Homo sapiens: one gene and its partners. The protein of the gene in region 2 purifies or fractionates together with the protein of the main gene of each other region. This does not show direct contact. Each region holds a gene or a part of one and is shown on either strand. Other genes may lie near its edges.

What was found. Proteins that work in one complex are often made in the same cells at the same time.
Region 1: the proteins of CREB3L3 (region 2) and SPARC purify together in Homo sapiens (affinity purification with mass spectrometry; one large-scale study listed by BioGRID and IntAct). This does not show direct contact.
Region 3: the proteins of CREB3L3 (region 2) and CMTR1 purify together in Homo sapiens (affinity purification with mass spectrometry; one large-scale study listed by BioGRID and IntAct). This does not show direct contact.
Region 4: the proteins of CREB3L3 (region 2) and TARBP1 purify together in Homo sapiens (affinity purification with mass spectrometry; one large-scale study listed by BioGRID and IntAct). This does not show direct contact.

Annotation. Positions count from the first base shown.
Region 1 is NC_000005.10:151,662,916-151,666,415, reverse strand, and holds part of SPARC (SPARC isoform 1 precursor), read left to right. Parts: coding exon 1-55; intron 56-2,180; coding exon 2,181-2,329; intron 2,330-2,816; coding exon 2,817-2,845; coding exon of another isoform or gene 2,846-2,961; 3' UTR 2,962-3,500.
Region 2 is NC_000019.10:4,163,631-4,167,130, forward strand, and holds part of CREB3L3 (cyclic AMP-responsive element-binding protein 3-like protein 3), read left to right. Parts: intron 1-872; coding exon 873-1,010; intron 1,011-3,500. UniProt on the Homo sapiens protein: Transcription factor that may act during endoplasmic reticulum stress by activating unfolded protein response target genes. Activated in response to cAMP stimulation. In vitro, binds to the cAMP response element (CRE) and box-B element.
Region 3 is NC_000006.12:37,439,721-37,443,220, reverse strand, and holds part of CMTR1 (cap-specific mRNA (nucleoside-2'-O-)-methyltransferase 1), read right to left. Parts: intron 1-3,500. UniProt on the Homo sapiens protein: S-adenosyl-L-methionine-dependent methyltransferase that mediates mRNA cap1 2'-O-ribose methylation to the 5'-cap structure of mRNAs.
Region 4 is NC_000001.11:234,430,680-234,434,179, forward strand, and holds part of TARBP1 (tRNA (guanosine(18)-2'-O)-methyltransferase TARBP1), read right to left. Parts: intron 2,893-3,500; coding exon 2,731-2,892; intron 1-2,730.

The DNA of each region.
Region 1 (3,500 bases), on a different chromosome or scaffold from region 2:
ACATCTTCCCTGTACACTGGCAGTTCGGCCAGCTGGACCAGCACCCCATTGACGGGTAAGACCCCAGACCCTAGAGTGAACAGAGCTCAAGGCTGGCAGGTGCACTAGCTATGGCCAGAAAGCCTCTCAGCAGCCTATACTGCTCCAAGCCCTGGCATCCACAGTTTGCCTGGGGATTGGAGCAGAAGGATGAGGCATCTGGAGAAAAGATGTGGACCTGGGACAAAGAAACCGATAAGACACTCTCATGCTGAGGTGAAAGTCAGTAGGAGCTCAAAATAGCTCCATAATCCTGCAAGTACTAGGCGTGGATATCTGGATAATGAAGGAGTGTGAATTAAGAAGGAGTACCAGGCTCCAAGGGGTGGCAGGGGACAAGGTTGGGTCAGCCACACGCCCCCTGTCCTTCAGCAGAACATCCAGGGGCAGAGCAGCCACCTGGCACTGTCTAAGCCCCCTCCTAAGGCTCAGCCCCAATAGGGCCCAACTGACCCTGGAAGTTATCCAAAAAAGCCTGTCTATTTTGCAAGCCCCCAGTTTGAGGGCTCTTGTCCCTTGTCCAAACGAGTTATGAGGCCCTGTGCAACTGCACTGCCGAACAGGCAGGCAGCTGGCCAGTTAGCAAATGCTTATGGAGTGTGCATTTTGTGCCCTGCACTATTCTAGGCAGGGGATTGAACAGCAGTCAGAGCTGGCATGGTCCTTGCCCTCATGGACTTATACTCTGTTCATAACCTGTCACTACCTTCTGAACTTCTCTTGTGGTGATGAAGTGAGAGCCCCTGCTCAGCCTCAGATGGAGCAAGCTACACCTGCACCTTCCCAGAGTGGTTTTTTCTTCGTCCTTGGGTTGTGGAAGCAGAGCATCACACAGAGGGGAAAGGAAGGGCTGCCCTACTCACATACTCAGGGAACTTCCTCTCTAGGATGTTCACCCCTCGCTCTTTGTCCAGCCTGTGTGCCTGGAGTCTGCCAACCCTGCCAGTGATCCTGAGGGCTGGGGTCTCCTGGGCTCTGGGAATCTCCCGGCCACTTCTCTCCCAGGCTTTTGCCATGGCTGGGATCCAACTGAGTCACTCATTATGGCAGGGAGGGGAAAAGTCAAAGGGGAACATCTGGAGCTCAGGCAAAGCAATTTGATCCCACTGCAACAGAGGGCCTGGAGGGAGGCTTTCAGATGGGGTGCAAGAACAGCACATCTGGGAAAGGGGTCCAGCTTGGGCAAGGGGACCCGCTTCCTCCTCCTCCCATCCCAGGGCTGTAGGTGACCTTGCCTGCATCCCTGCCCCTCCCTGGGCCTCAGTTTTCCACCAGTACAATGAAGGGGAGGAGAATGTTCCTATCAGTTCAAACATTGTGTGATTTCTTTGGTGAGCTGGGTGGGGCTGCGAGGTCTAGAGGTTAAGAAGACAACTGGAGTCACATTGTTCCCTGGAGATCCTTTGTGGATCTTTAGGGACAAGTAGTTGGGGGCTCTGGGAAACAAAGAAAAAAATTATACACATGCTCTGGAGTCTAAGGCCAGCAGGGAGAATAGGGAGGGAGGACAGTGGGAGAGACATCCAAAGGGCCTCCCTCTCAGACATTACAGGATACACAAGCAAAGCTCTATGAAGATGGTTAGAGCTCCCGTTGACCCTCACTGCCAATCCCAGTCCCTTTCCACATTCCTCCCCAGAAGGCAGCACTGTCACCAGATTGGTGTGTCATTTTTAGACCCTTTACTAGGCATTTATAGATGTATAAATGTGTGTCCATAGACAATATACAGTGCTGTGTCATGCTAGATTTTGATCTACCCATAGCAGAAGTGCTGAATTTTGATTTTAAGTTTCTGTGTCCCCAGTTCTCAGCCAATTAGGAAACAATCAAATACACCAAACAGACCTTTGTTTTTGAGACCCTGAAACCTTAGAGCTGGAAGGGCCGTTAGTAATTATGGCCATCTCCTCCTCTTTGCTGGAAGGAGAAACTGAGGTTCCGAATGGTGCACTGCTGTTCTCTGAGTCTCAGAGCAGTCAGTGGCAGAGCTAGGGGTAGACCTGGGATTCTGGCTTTTTGTCCTGCTTTAAATATCCTTTCCTCCATGCTCTGGGGCAGGCTAACTCCCCGGTTGCCTCCCAAGGCTGGGTGTGGAGCTTTTCCATGCCTCAGGCCCTCCCCTGCCTCCTTCCCTGCAGGTACCTCTCCCACACCGAGCTGGCTCCACTGCGTGCTCCCCTCATCCCCATGGAGCATTGCACCACCCGCTTTTTCGAGACCTGTGACCTGGACAATGACAAGTACATCGCCCTGGATGAGTGGGCCGGCTGCTTCGGCATCAAGCAGAGTGAGTGTCTGAACAAAGAAGCAAGGGGCATGGGCAGAAACACTGCTCCCAGGGTGCTGGGTTGTCATCCCCCCACTCTCCGCTCTCTTGGTCTGTCTGTTGTCTGTCCTCTCTGCCTGTCTCTGCTCTCTCTGCCTATTTGACTCCTGTCTCTTGGGCGTCTTCCTGATCCTTCTCTGTCCATCCAACTGTCCCTCTCTCTTTCCCTTCCTCAAGCGTTAGCACTCACCCGTGCTAAACACTATTTTGGGAACTGGCAGGCACACAGAGAGGAAACAGGAAGTGTAACTTGGCAGCGTGTGTAAGAGACAGGGACAGGCCAGAGACAGAGAGAGCGAGATTCCTCCGTCACTGACTTCCTGGGTGACCTTGCATGGCCACCTAGACCCCTGCCCCTGGGGATGGGTGGGAGTCCACTGACTCCTTGGGAAGTGCGTTATCATCGACACAGCCTTATTTTTAACCGTGCTCTTTTCTTGCTTTGCAGAGGATATCGACAAGGATCTTGTGATCTAAATCCACTCCTTCCACAGTACCGGATTCTCTCTTTAACCCTCCCCTTCGTGTTTCCCCCAATGTTTAAAATGTTTGGATGGTTTGTTGTTCTGCCTGGAGACAAGGTGCTAACATAGATTTAAGTGAATACATTAACGGTGCTAAAAATGAAAATTCTAACCCAAGACATGACATTCTTAGCTGTAACTTAACTATTAAGGCCTTTTCCACACGCATTAATAGTCCCATTTTTCTCTTGCCATTTGTAGCTTTGCCCATTGTCTTATTGGCACATGGGTGGACACGGATCTGCTGGGCTCTGCCTTAAACACACATTGCAGCTTCAACTTTTCTCTTTAGTGTTCTGTTTGAAACTAATACTTACCGAGTCAGACTTTGTGTTCATTTCATTTCAGGGTCTTGGCTGCCTGTGGGCTTCCCCAGGTGGCCTGGAGGTGGGCAAAGGGAAGTAACAGACACACGATGTTGTCAAGGATGGTTTTGGGACTAGAGGCTCAGTGGTGGGAGAGATCCCTGCAGAACCCACCAACCAGAACGTGGTTTGCCTGAGGCTGTAACTGAGAGAAAGATTCTGGGGCTGTGTTATGAAAATATAGACATTCTCACATAAGCCCAGTTCATCACCATTTCCTCCTTTACCTTTCAGTGCAGTTTC
Region 2 (3,500 bases):
GCCTCCCGAGTAGCTGGGATTGCAGGCACGTGCCACCACACCAGGCTGATTTTTGTATTTTTAATGGAGACAGGGTTTCACCATGTTGGCCAGGCTAGTCTCGAACTCCTGACCTCAAGTGATCCACCTGCCTCGGCCTCCCAAAGTGCTGGGACTACAGACGTGAGCCACCTTTTCTTTTTTTTTTTTTTTGAGACAGAGTCTTACTCTGTCTCTCAGGCTGGAGTGCAGTGGTGTGATCTGGGCTCACTGGAACCTCTGCTTCCCGGGTTCAAGCAGTTCTCCTGCCTCAGCCTCCTGAGTAGCTGGGATTACAGGCGCCGCCACCATGGTCGGGTAATTTTTTTTTTTTTTTTTTTTTGAGACGGAGTCTCATACTGTCACTAGGGCTGGAGTGCAGTGGCACAATCTCGGCTCACTGCAACCTCTGACTTCTGGGTTCAAGCGATTCTCCTGCCTCAGCCTCGCAAGTAGCTGGTATTACAGGCACCCGCCACTACGCCCAGCTAACTTTTTGTATTTTTAGTAGAGACGGGGTTTCACCATGTTGACCAGGATGGTCTCAAACTCCTGACCTAGTGATTTGCCCACCTCGGCCTCCCAAAGTGCTGGGATTACAGGCATGAGCCACCGCACCTGGGCAATTTTTGTATTTTTAGTAGAGACGAGGTTTCATCATGTTACCCAGGCTGGTCTCGATCTCCTGAGCTCAAGTGATCCACATGCCTCAGCCTCTCTAAGTGCTGGGATGACAGGCGTGAGCCACCACACCCAGCCTGGGGTGATAGTGTTTTCGATCTGATACCTCTTTCATTTCCTGAAGGCAGTTGGCGTCCCTGCACCCGCCGTCATTCCTCTGATTTTTTCCGTAGCAACAGCATCACCTGGGGGCCTCCTACCTCCTGCGACCTGGGGCTGGGCACTGTCAGGAGCTGGTGCTCACCGAGGATGAGAAGAAGCTGCTGGCTAAAGAAGGCATCACCCTGCCCACTCAGCTGCCCCTCACTAAGGTGAGTCTGGGGGGACTTCCAGCCCTGGATCCATCTCCCCTTCGTGCACTTACCTGCATGTGTGTCCCACCTTTATTTATTTATTTAGAGTAGAGTCTTTCTCTGTCACTGAGGCTGGGATGCAGTGGCACGATCTCAGCTTGCTGCAACCTCTGCCTCTCAGATTCCAGCGATTCTCCCGCCTCAGCCTCCTGAGTAGCTGGGATTACAGCCATGCGCCACCACGCCCAGCTAATTTTTGTATCTTTAGTAGAGACAGGGTTTCACCATGTTGGCCAGGCTGGTCTCGAGCTCCTGACCTCATGTGATCCTCCTGCCTCGGTCTCCCAAAGTGCTGGGATTCCAGGCGTGAGCCACCGCACTGGCTATGTGTCTCACCTTTAGAACACCCGTACTAGAATGCTATGCTGTGTCTGTCACCAGAGCCAAAACAATCAGTCAGAAGCCCCATTGTAAATTCAACTCAGAGGGTAATTATCAACATCCAGGAATGAATGGCGGACTCCAGGTGGCAGCAATTTGGGTGCAGCAAACTTTTTTTTTTTTTTGGAGATAGGGTCTTGCTGTGTCCCGCTGGAGTGCAGTGGTGCCATCATAGCTCACTTCAGCCTTGACCTCCTGGGCTCAAGAGATCCTCCCGCCTCAGCCTCTCAAGTAGCTAGGATGACAGGTGCACGCCACTACACTTGGCTAATTTAATTTTTTTTTTTTTTTTGTAGAAATGGGGTCTTGTTATGTTGCCCAGGCTGGGCTGGGACTCCTGGGTTCAAGTGATTCTCCCACCTTGGCCTCCCAAAGTGTTGGGATTACAGGCATGAGCCATCATGCCTGGCCCTGCAGACATGTTTTGATTGGACTGTACTGCATTTTATACATTTTTGAATTGCTTGATAATGTTTTTCTGACCGGTAGATTTTACAAGAGAACTCAGTGACTTGAGGCTGGGCACGGTGGCTCACACCTGTAATCCCAGCACTGTGGGAGGCTGAGGCAGAGGATCACTTGAGGTCAGGAGTTCGAGACTAGCCTGGCCAACATGGTGAAACCCCGTCTCTACTAAAATTACAAAAATTAGCTGTGCCTGGTGGTGGGCAACTGTAAGGTGCTTCTCAGCCTCCCAGCTTCTCAGGAGGCTGAGGCAGGAGGATCTCCCTTGAACCCGGGAGGTGGAGGTTGCAGTGAGCCGAGATGGTACCACTGCACTCCAGCCTGGGTGACAAGAGCGAAACTCTGTCAAAACAAAAACAAAAACAAAAAAACTAAAAACATAAACAAAACAAAATCCAAAAAACCAACTCAATTACTTGAATGTCCTCTGTTTCATATTCTCAAACCTCCATATGCACCAGTCAATGGCTGGGTAGCTGTTTGGGTTCTCTAGCTAACCACAGTCCCCACCCAGCCTGCTGCACTCAGTATCAATGCCTGAGTTTGATATTCTCATCTGTTTTTTTTTTTTTTCTATTGAGACAGGTTCTGACTCTGTTGCCCAGGCTGGAGTGGAGTGAGGTGATCTTGGCTCACTCCAACTTCCCCCTCTGGAGTACAAGTGATTCTCCCACATCAGCCTCCCTAGCAGCTGGGACTACAGGTGTATGCCATTATGCCTAGCTAATTTTTTTTTTTTTCCTGAGACGGAGTTTCGCTTTTGTTGCCCAGGCTGGAGTGCAGTGGCGCGATCTCGGCTCACTGCAACCTCCGCTTCCCAGGTTCAAGTGATTCTCCTGCCTCAGCCTCCTAAGTAGCTGGGATTACAGGCACGCGCCACCACGCCTGGCTAATTTTTTTTTTTTTTTTTTTTTTTGAGTAGAGACAGAGTTTCACCATGTTGGCCAGGATGGTCTCGATCTCTTGACCTTGTGATCTGCCCAGCTCAGCCTCCCAAAGTGTTGGGATTACAGGTGTGAGCCACTGCGCCCAGCATTTTTTTTTTTCCTTAGAGACAGGGTCTTGCTATGTTGCCCAGGCTGGTCTCAAACTCCTGGCCTCAAGCAGTCCTCTGACCTTGGCCTCCCAAAGTGTTAAGATTACAGGTGTGAGCCACCGTGCCTGGCCCCATCTGTTTCTATTGTTGTTGTTGTTTGTTTTGAGATAGGATCTCACTTTGTCGCTCAGGCTGGAGTGCAGTGGTACAATCTGCAGGTAGCAGCTAACTGCAACCTTGAACTCCTGGTCTCAAGGGATCCTCCTGCCTCAGCCTCCCAAGTAGCTGGGACTATAGGCATGCACCACCACACCCAGCTGATTTTGTGGTTGTTGTTTTGTTTTAGTAGAGACAGGGTCTTTACTAAATGTTGCCCAGTCTAGTCTTGAACTCCTGGACTTATGCGATCCTCTTGCCTTGGCCTCCCAAAGTGCTGGGATTACAGCACTGTGAACCACCGCGCCCAGCCTGACATTCCCATTTGAAGACACTTATTGGCCGGGTGTGGTGTCTCATGCCTGTAATCCCAGCTCTTTGGGAGGCAAAGATGGGCGGATCACCTGAGG
Region 3 (3,500 bases), on a different chromosome or scaffold from region 2:
ATTTTTATTTCTTATAATTGCAAAAAGAGCTTTTGGAAGGAACGATATACAAGAAGACCAATAAAAGTGATTATTCACACATTCAGGGGTTAGCATTTGGAGACAGAATACCAAAACAATTACTTGGAACTAGTGAAAGCAAAAGTGAAACTTGATTTACATTTTTATACCACGAAAGTTTACACTGGCTATCTTTTTATATTTTTTGACTTATGAACCATGTGAATATATTATCTATTAAAATTTAAAATAAATATGAAAATATTGACTTAGCAATGTGGCATAATTCCTTTGAAGAAGAAGGGACACCACTCAGAAAGGGTGTTGATTCAAAACTTGGCTGCTTGTGAGAAGTACTGAAGGAAAGTCACAGACGGCAGTGTGTAAAACATTTTTTAATAGACCCGAGGTGGTCACTATTCAGGTATTTCTAACTTGAAGAATACATTATAATTCTGAAGCCAATCTTAAGTGATCCATCCATTTCCCTACCAGAACCAAAACCTGCTAAGGGTTGACATTCAAGAAGAACAAAGCTTTCCCCAGCACTCCAGGCCTAACTGATTATCCCTTCCACTGTGCTCCAGTAACACCAGTGTCATTGGCACAGCACTCATCACATTGCCTTAGAGCCAGTTATTGTTTGCCACTTGCTGTCCCCATTGGACAGGGTCACTCCTGGAGAGCAGGAACTATGTCACAGTCTGTACCCAACACCTGGACTGAGGCTTTCCATTTAATAGAAATTAATTAAATGATTACTGTAGTAAATGTAAAGATGTGTCAGCCAAGTATCACTTTCCTAAGGACCTACAGAGTATATGACTCCTTGAGACATTTCCTCTTACAAATAGTGCAAGCTGTTCAGGCCTCAGAAGTTTAAGGATGAGAATGGGATCTCTATATCTTAACAGAGAACGGAGCCCTCCTGGGCTATGATTTAGCTTCCCCACCAGTAGGTTGAATTAGGACATCTGTCATAGTTCAGAACACTGATACCGTTTAAAAGATCAGACTACTATACTGGTTCAGCACCTATTCTATAAAAGATCATGCTACATATAATGGGGTACTGTGCAAAAGTAACAACCCTTAGAGAGCTTAAAAATCTAATAGATAAGGTTAATATGCATTTTCAAGGATACAACATTTTACAAAAGAAAGAAAAGACAGGTGAACATGTGTGAAAGAATAAACTTAAAACCAAAATTCTGGCTTCTAATAAGTTAGCAAGGATAAATTTTGGTTGAGAATGTCCCTGTATGAGAGGCACAAAATCTGCCCTTCCCTTTATGGTGGCTGTCCAATTCTCTTAATCGAGTTGACTTGCTTACATGAACCAATCTGGCAAACGTCACAGAGTGCCAGAGAGTGCCACTCAGAAAACCCAGACCACTAAGAATGAGTAACCATGGAAACTGAGAGGTGAACTGATATTTCTTTTGTTTTGCATTTTCCTGCATTTTCTGCATTTGTGAGACACAAGAATGTATTAGTTTGAAAATCAAGGTCCAGGCACGGTAGCTCACACCTGTAATCCCAACATTTGGGAGGCGAGGCGGGCGGATCACCTGAGGTCAGGAGTTCAAGACCAGCCTGACCCAAATGGAGAAACCCTGTCTCTACTAAAAATACAAAATTAGCCAGGCGTGGTGGCACATGCCTATAATCTCAGCTACTCGGGAGGCTGAGGTAGGAGATTCACTTGAACCCAGGAGGTGGAGATTGCGGTGAGCCGAGATCGAGCCATTGCACTCCAGCCTGGGCAACAAGAGCTAAACTCTGTCTCAAAAAAAAAAAGAAAAAGAAAATTAGGGTAAAAAAAGCTATAAATAAATAGATTAACACTCCAAGCCTTGGGAAGAGGTTGGTTCCTTTCCAGAGAAATCTTCCAAGAGCAGCAAATCTGAGGGGAAAGGCCTTCTAAATGGCTCAAGACCGTTCTAGGGCCTCTCATCTATTCTCCCATGCAGAGGAGAGAGATGCACTCTGCAACAGAGTGCCCACATGCTAAAGAACTGCACTTCCAAAGGTATGGATTCTCTTCACTCAGTTGCTTTCATGCCTTCAACCTGTACTACTTAATACAGAAACAGGTGGTACCAGGAATGTGGGCAGCTCCCTAAGCAGAGCCCTAAAGTTCCTCTTGGGCAGCCCAGGGATCCAGGGCCCTGACTAATCACAAGCTACAATGCTAAATCAGTTGCTACTCCTTTCACCAGCAATCTGGACATTCATAGGTCTACCTATGAAAAAGTCTGAAAACCCGGTATCCTTCTCAAAGGAGGGTATGCCCTTGCTCCAGCTCTAAAGAGTTGCCAGGCTGTTAGATTTGCCTGAGGGCCCAACAATGAGCACGGAGATAGTACAAATAACATTCCTGGGCACACAGGGTTCCTGCCACCCTAAGATCTCAAAGAGAGATCTTTTGTTTCCTTCTGTCTTCAGAATATCTCTGGGCAAAAATGACAGGGAGAACCAAATTTGAGTGGAAGGCTCACTAAGCAAATCAGTGGTGACTCTGGTGTAAAATTCCAGTACCAGACTTTGGCACAAAGATTTTTCCCTCCTACTCTTCCTCCCAAGGTGTTACCTAATGTACATTATCCTTTCCAGGTTCTAAGAGTGAGGTTAATGGGAGTAAAATATCACCCTACTAGGCAATTCCTTGTAAGATCAAGAAGTGTGCTAGATAAGCAAATAAGTCTTATTTTTTTCTTTTATTCACGTGGTATAGGAGACCACTTCTTAGCTTGACATGCTTTAAGCCAAAGTTCCCTAGATTATTCCTGATGTCCACAGACTGCCACAGCCACTACTTATTCTTACTCAGGGGCCTTTGAGGCTACTCTTTTCATATGAAAGGGAGACAATTGTCACGGCTGCAGCAGGAACTAAACAGGAGGCTTAGCTTCTCAAGACCGATAAAGAATTTAGCAAACATTGAGCAGATAATTTTGTAATGAGGTTGTAAATAGGAGTAATAAGGTCAGTCTATTAAACTCATTAGTTTCAATAAGAATTTGCCAAAGCTGGATGGCATTCCCATTTACCTCCTGGGGAGCTCCCCTCCTAAAACCTACCAGAGAGCCCAAAACAGTATGTACGGTTTTAAGATTTCTTCTCCACTTGATAGAAATCACTATTAAGTCATTACAAGGAAGAAAGATTCAACTTTACAGAGGAAACAGAGGTCTCCTGGCTGTTGGCAAAATTTTTCACATGGCAATACAGCAATGGGACAAACATGCCAAGATTAAAATTGGCAGTGACAAGCTGGGCACAGTGGCATGTGCCTGTAGTCCCAGCTACTTGGGAGGCTGAGGTAGGAAGATCACCTGAGCTCAAGAGTTCATGGCCAGTGTGGGCAACATAGTGAAACCCTGTCACTAAAAAAAGAAAAAGAATACATATACTATGTTTAAAAAATGACAGTGACAACAAAGAGGGGCAGCTCCAACCGCTAATGGCCAAGGTGGGCAGCACACAGATACAGAAAA
Region 4 (3,500 bases), on a different chromosome or scaffold from region 2:
TGGGTGAGCCTTATTTTAACTGTCTGCTGAAACATGTTAAAAAAAAAAATAAAAGGCTCCAGGTTACAAATAATTCCTTCTATCAGCTGCACGCTACTTTTGGAGAAGTCACGTAGTCCAGCAGTTAAGAGCTGGACTCAGGAACCACAAAGCCCAGGTCTGAATCCTAGCTCTGTGCTACTACCAGTATGAGTGTAGACATACTACACCTTAGTTTTCTCATCTGTAAAATGGGGACAGTAACAGAATCTACTTCACGGGGTTATTGTGAAGATTAAGCAAATGGGTTACTGCATGTAAAACACTTGGAACTCTACACGTAGGAAAGGAGGGTAGCCAAGACAACCTGGTCTATACTTAAAGAGAAAATCGACAATCTCTCACCAAGCTAGGAGTGCAGGCAAGAAGTCAGACACAGAAAACAACAGCACTGAGAGATTACAGCAGTTCCCTCAAATACTGCCAACCAGTAATGTCTGTATCAGAAAGGAAATTTCTACTTATTCCATACCCCTCTTTCACTCTCCAAAAATAAATCAACCATCTCTACAGAAAAATTTTACATATCAACACTGCCAACATATGAAATAGAATTTAGTGTTACCTTTGAGCCAACTATCGTCCCTGCTAACCTTAATGTAATTCAGTGAATTACTAAAGGAAGCCGATTTTTAAGAATAAGAGTTACTGTGGCATGGTTCATGGTTTGGTTGTATATTTAGAACTCACAATGTTCTTTCATAACACTAACAGACTAATAGGTACTAGACAGGATGCTGAAATATTAATCATCGTCTTTATCATTTCCTCCTAGAATTAAATTATTAAAGCAATCGAGTATCTTCTTTGTTTTTCTTAGTAGCCTGGATTAGTTACACTGATTGAGTTCAACTTATTAAACACTTACCACATGTTAAGTGAAAATGGCTAACTTTTATTGAGGACTGTCTATCTGCCAGGTACAGTTCTAAAGACTTAACATGAATGAGCTTTCTTTAATTCCCACATCAACTCTATAATCCCCATTTTGCAGGTGCAGTAAATGAGACACAGAGGGGTTAAATAATGTAGGTCACACAGCAAAAATAAAGCCAGAATTCAAACCCAGCAACTCTAACTCCAAAGCCTGTGCTCTTCATTACTAAGCCTTATTGTGCCATGTTTAAGAAATGCCTTGGCCAGGCGTGGTGGCTCACGCCTGTAATCCCAGCACTTTGGGAGGCCGAGGTGGGTGGATCACCTAGGTCAGGAGTTCGAAACCAGCCTGGCCAACATGGTGAAACTCCATCTCTACTAAACACACAAAAATTAGCCAGGCATGGTGGCGGGCACCTACAATCCCAGCTACTCAGGAGGCTGAGGCAGGAGAATCGCTTGAACCTGGGGGGCCAAGGTTGCAGTGAGCCAACTGCACAACTGCATTCCAGACTTGGCAAAAGAGCGAAACTCCGTCTCCAAAAAAAAAAAAAAAAAGCCTTGAGGCCAGGCACGGTGGCTCACACCTACAATCCCAGAACTTCAGGAGGCTGAGGCAGGCAAATTGCTTGAAGTCAAGAGTTCGAGACCACCCTGGCCAACATGGCAAAACCCCAACTCTACTAAAAATACAAAAATTAGCCGGGCATGGTGGCACACGCCTGTAGTCCCAGCTACTCGGGAGGTTGAGATAGGAGAACTGCTTGAACCCAGGAGGCTGAGACTGCAGTGAGCCAAGATCACGCCACTGCACTCGGTCTGGGTGACAGAGCGAGACTCTGTTCAAAAATATATATATATAGGAAAAGATATATATGCATACATTACTCCAAAAACAAGAAAGATGGAAATACACACTACAAGTGAGGCATAAAGAGCAACAGGAAGATGAAAGAGAGTGAGATACTAATCGAAGAAGACCTCTAAGAGAAAAGAGATTCCAGTTGGTCCATAAAAGGGGAGACCAGATGCTGCCAAGTGTATGCTGGAGGAGAGGGCACTCATTCTCCACGGAGGGACCAGACTGAATGACAGCCTCCATGAGGAAGATAGGACACATGCTTGTGATTTGTAAAACTCTAAGTAGCCTAGAGTGGCTGCAACGTCACGGCACTGTGGGAAGGAGGGGGAAAGGCATTAGACAGTGGACAGCTAGGCTGAAAAATGAGGTAGGAAGCCAAGCATGGAGGGCAATGATGTCAGACTATAAAATGTCCTTTACTGGACACGTTTGGGCAAAAGACCTAGTACAGGTGAAATGTCTATATCTAAATGATTTTAAGATGATGCCTCTTATATGTTTAATATTATATTAAGAGTATCACCTGTAATCCCAGCACTTTGGGAGGCCAAGGCAGGCGGATCACGAGGTCAGGAGTTCGAGACTAGCCTGGTTAACATGGTAAAACCCGTCTCCACTAAAAAATAGAAAAATTAGCCAGCCATGGTGGCACACACCTGTAATCCCAGCTACTCAGGAGGCTGAGGCAGGAGAATCACTTGAACCCAGGAGGTGGAGGTTGCAGTGAGCCAAGATGGTACCACTGCACCCCAGCCTGGGTGACAGAGCCAGACTCCATCTCCAAAAAACAAAAAGTATCAATCTTAACTACATCTTATCACTAGAGGGTATATTTTAAAACTGAATTTTAGTTAACGCTTTGTATGGTATCAAAATAGTGTATAAGAACTGAATATGTATTCCCTGTATGCCTTATTCAAGATAACTACAAACCTTGAATCAAAGAGGCTTACCTGTCCACTGTCCATCTCTTGAAGATGCTGAATGGATGCATTTTTCAAAAGAGAAATAACTCTCCAGATAGGGTTACCCCTTTTCCACCCAACCTTCAAATGCAGATTTATAAGCTCAGTTAACACCATCAGGTATAAATGGCAACGATCCAGATCTGAAACCTAAGACAAGGATTAAAACACTTAAGGGTACAAGCAAGGTCCATGATTTTCACAAAACTACAAGCCTTCAGGCAGGAGAAGTTTACTTAAAGGACCACAACAAGACACTGATGAGAAAATAAGTTCTTTTCTCCAAGCAGCCTTCCATAACCTCCCACGCAGAGCTAAGGACTTCCTTCTCTGTGCTTACACAGTGACTGTGCATTCAGCACAATTATGGTGCATTTCACAGTTGAGTCATCTGTCTCCCTACCTATGAGGGAGACCTTAGATGGCAGAAATTACCATCTACCAATTCTTATGTCCCTAGGGCTAGTACATCATAAATAATAATGATAATGGTTATAGCAATGACTACTTCCACTGTTTACAAAAATCACTTCTCACAAAAAAGATCACTGTCCCACTTTCATAAGACAACTAAGTTTCAGAGAGGTTAAACAACTTAAATGCACATTTTTTGACTCATAAACCCAGAAAAAAATGGGTTCAGCTCTACCATGCACCAGCCCTGTGACATAGGACAAGTTATTTAACTCTTCACTACTAAGCCTTATTGTGTTAAGATCTCATAATTCAGGTGGGGAGATGGATGACTCAATTGTGAA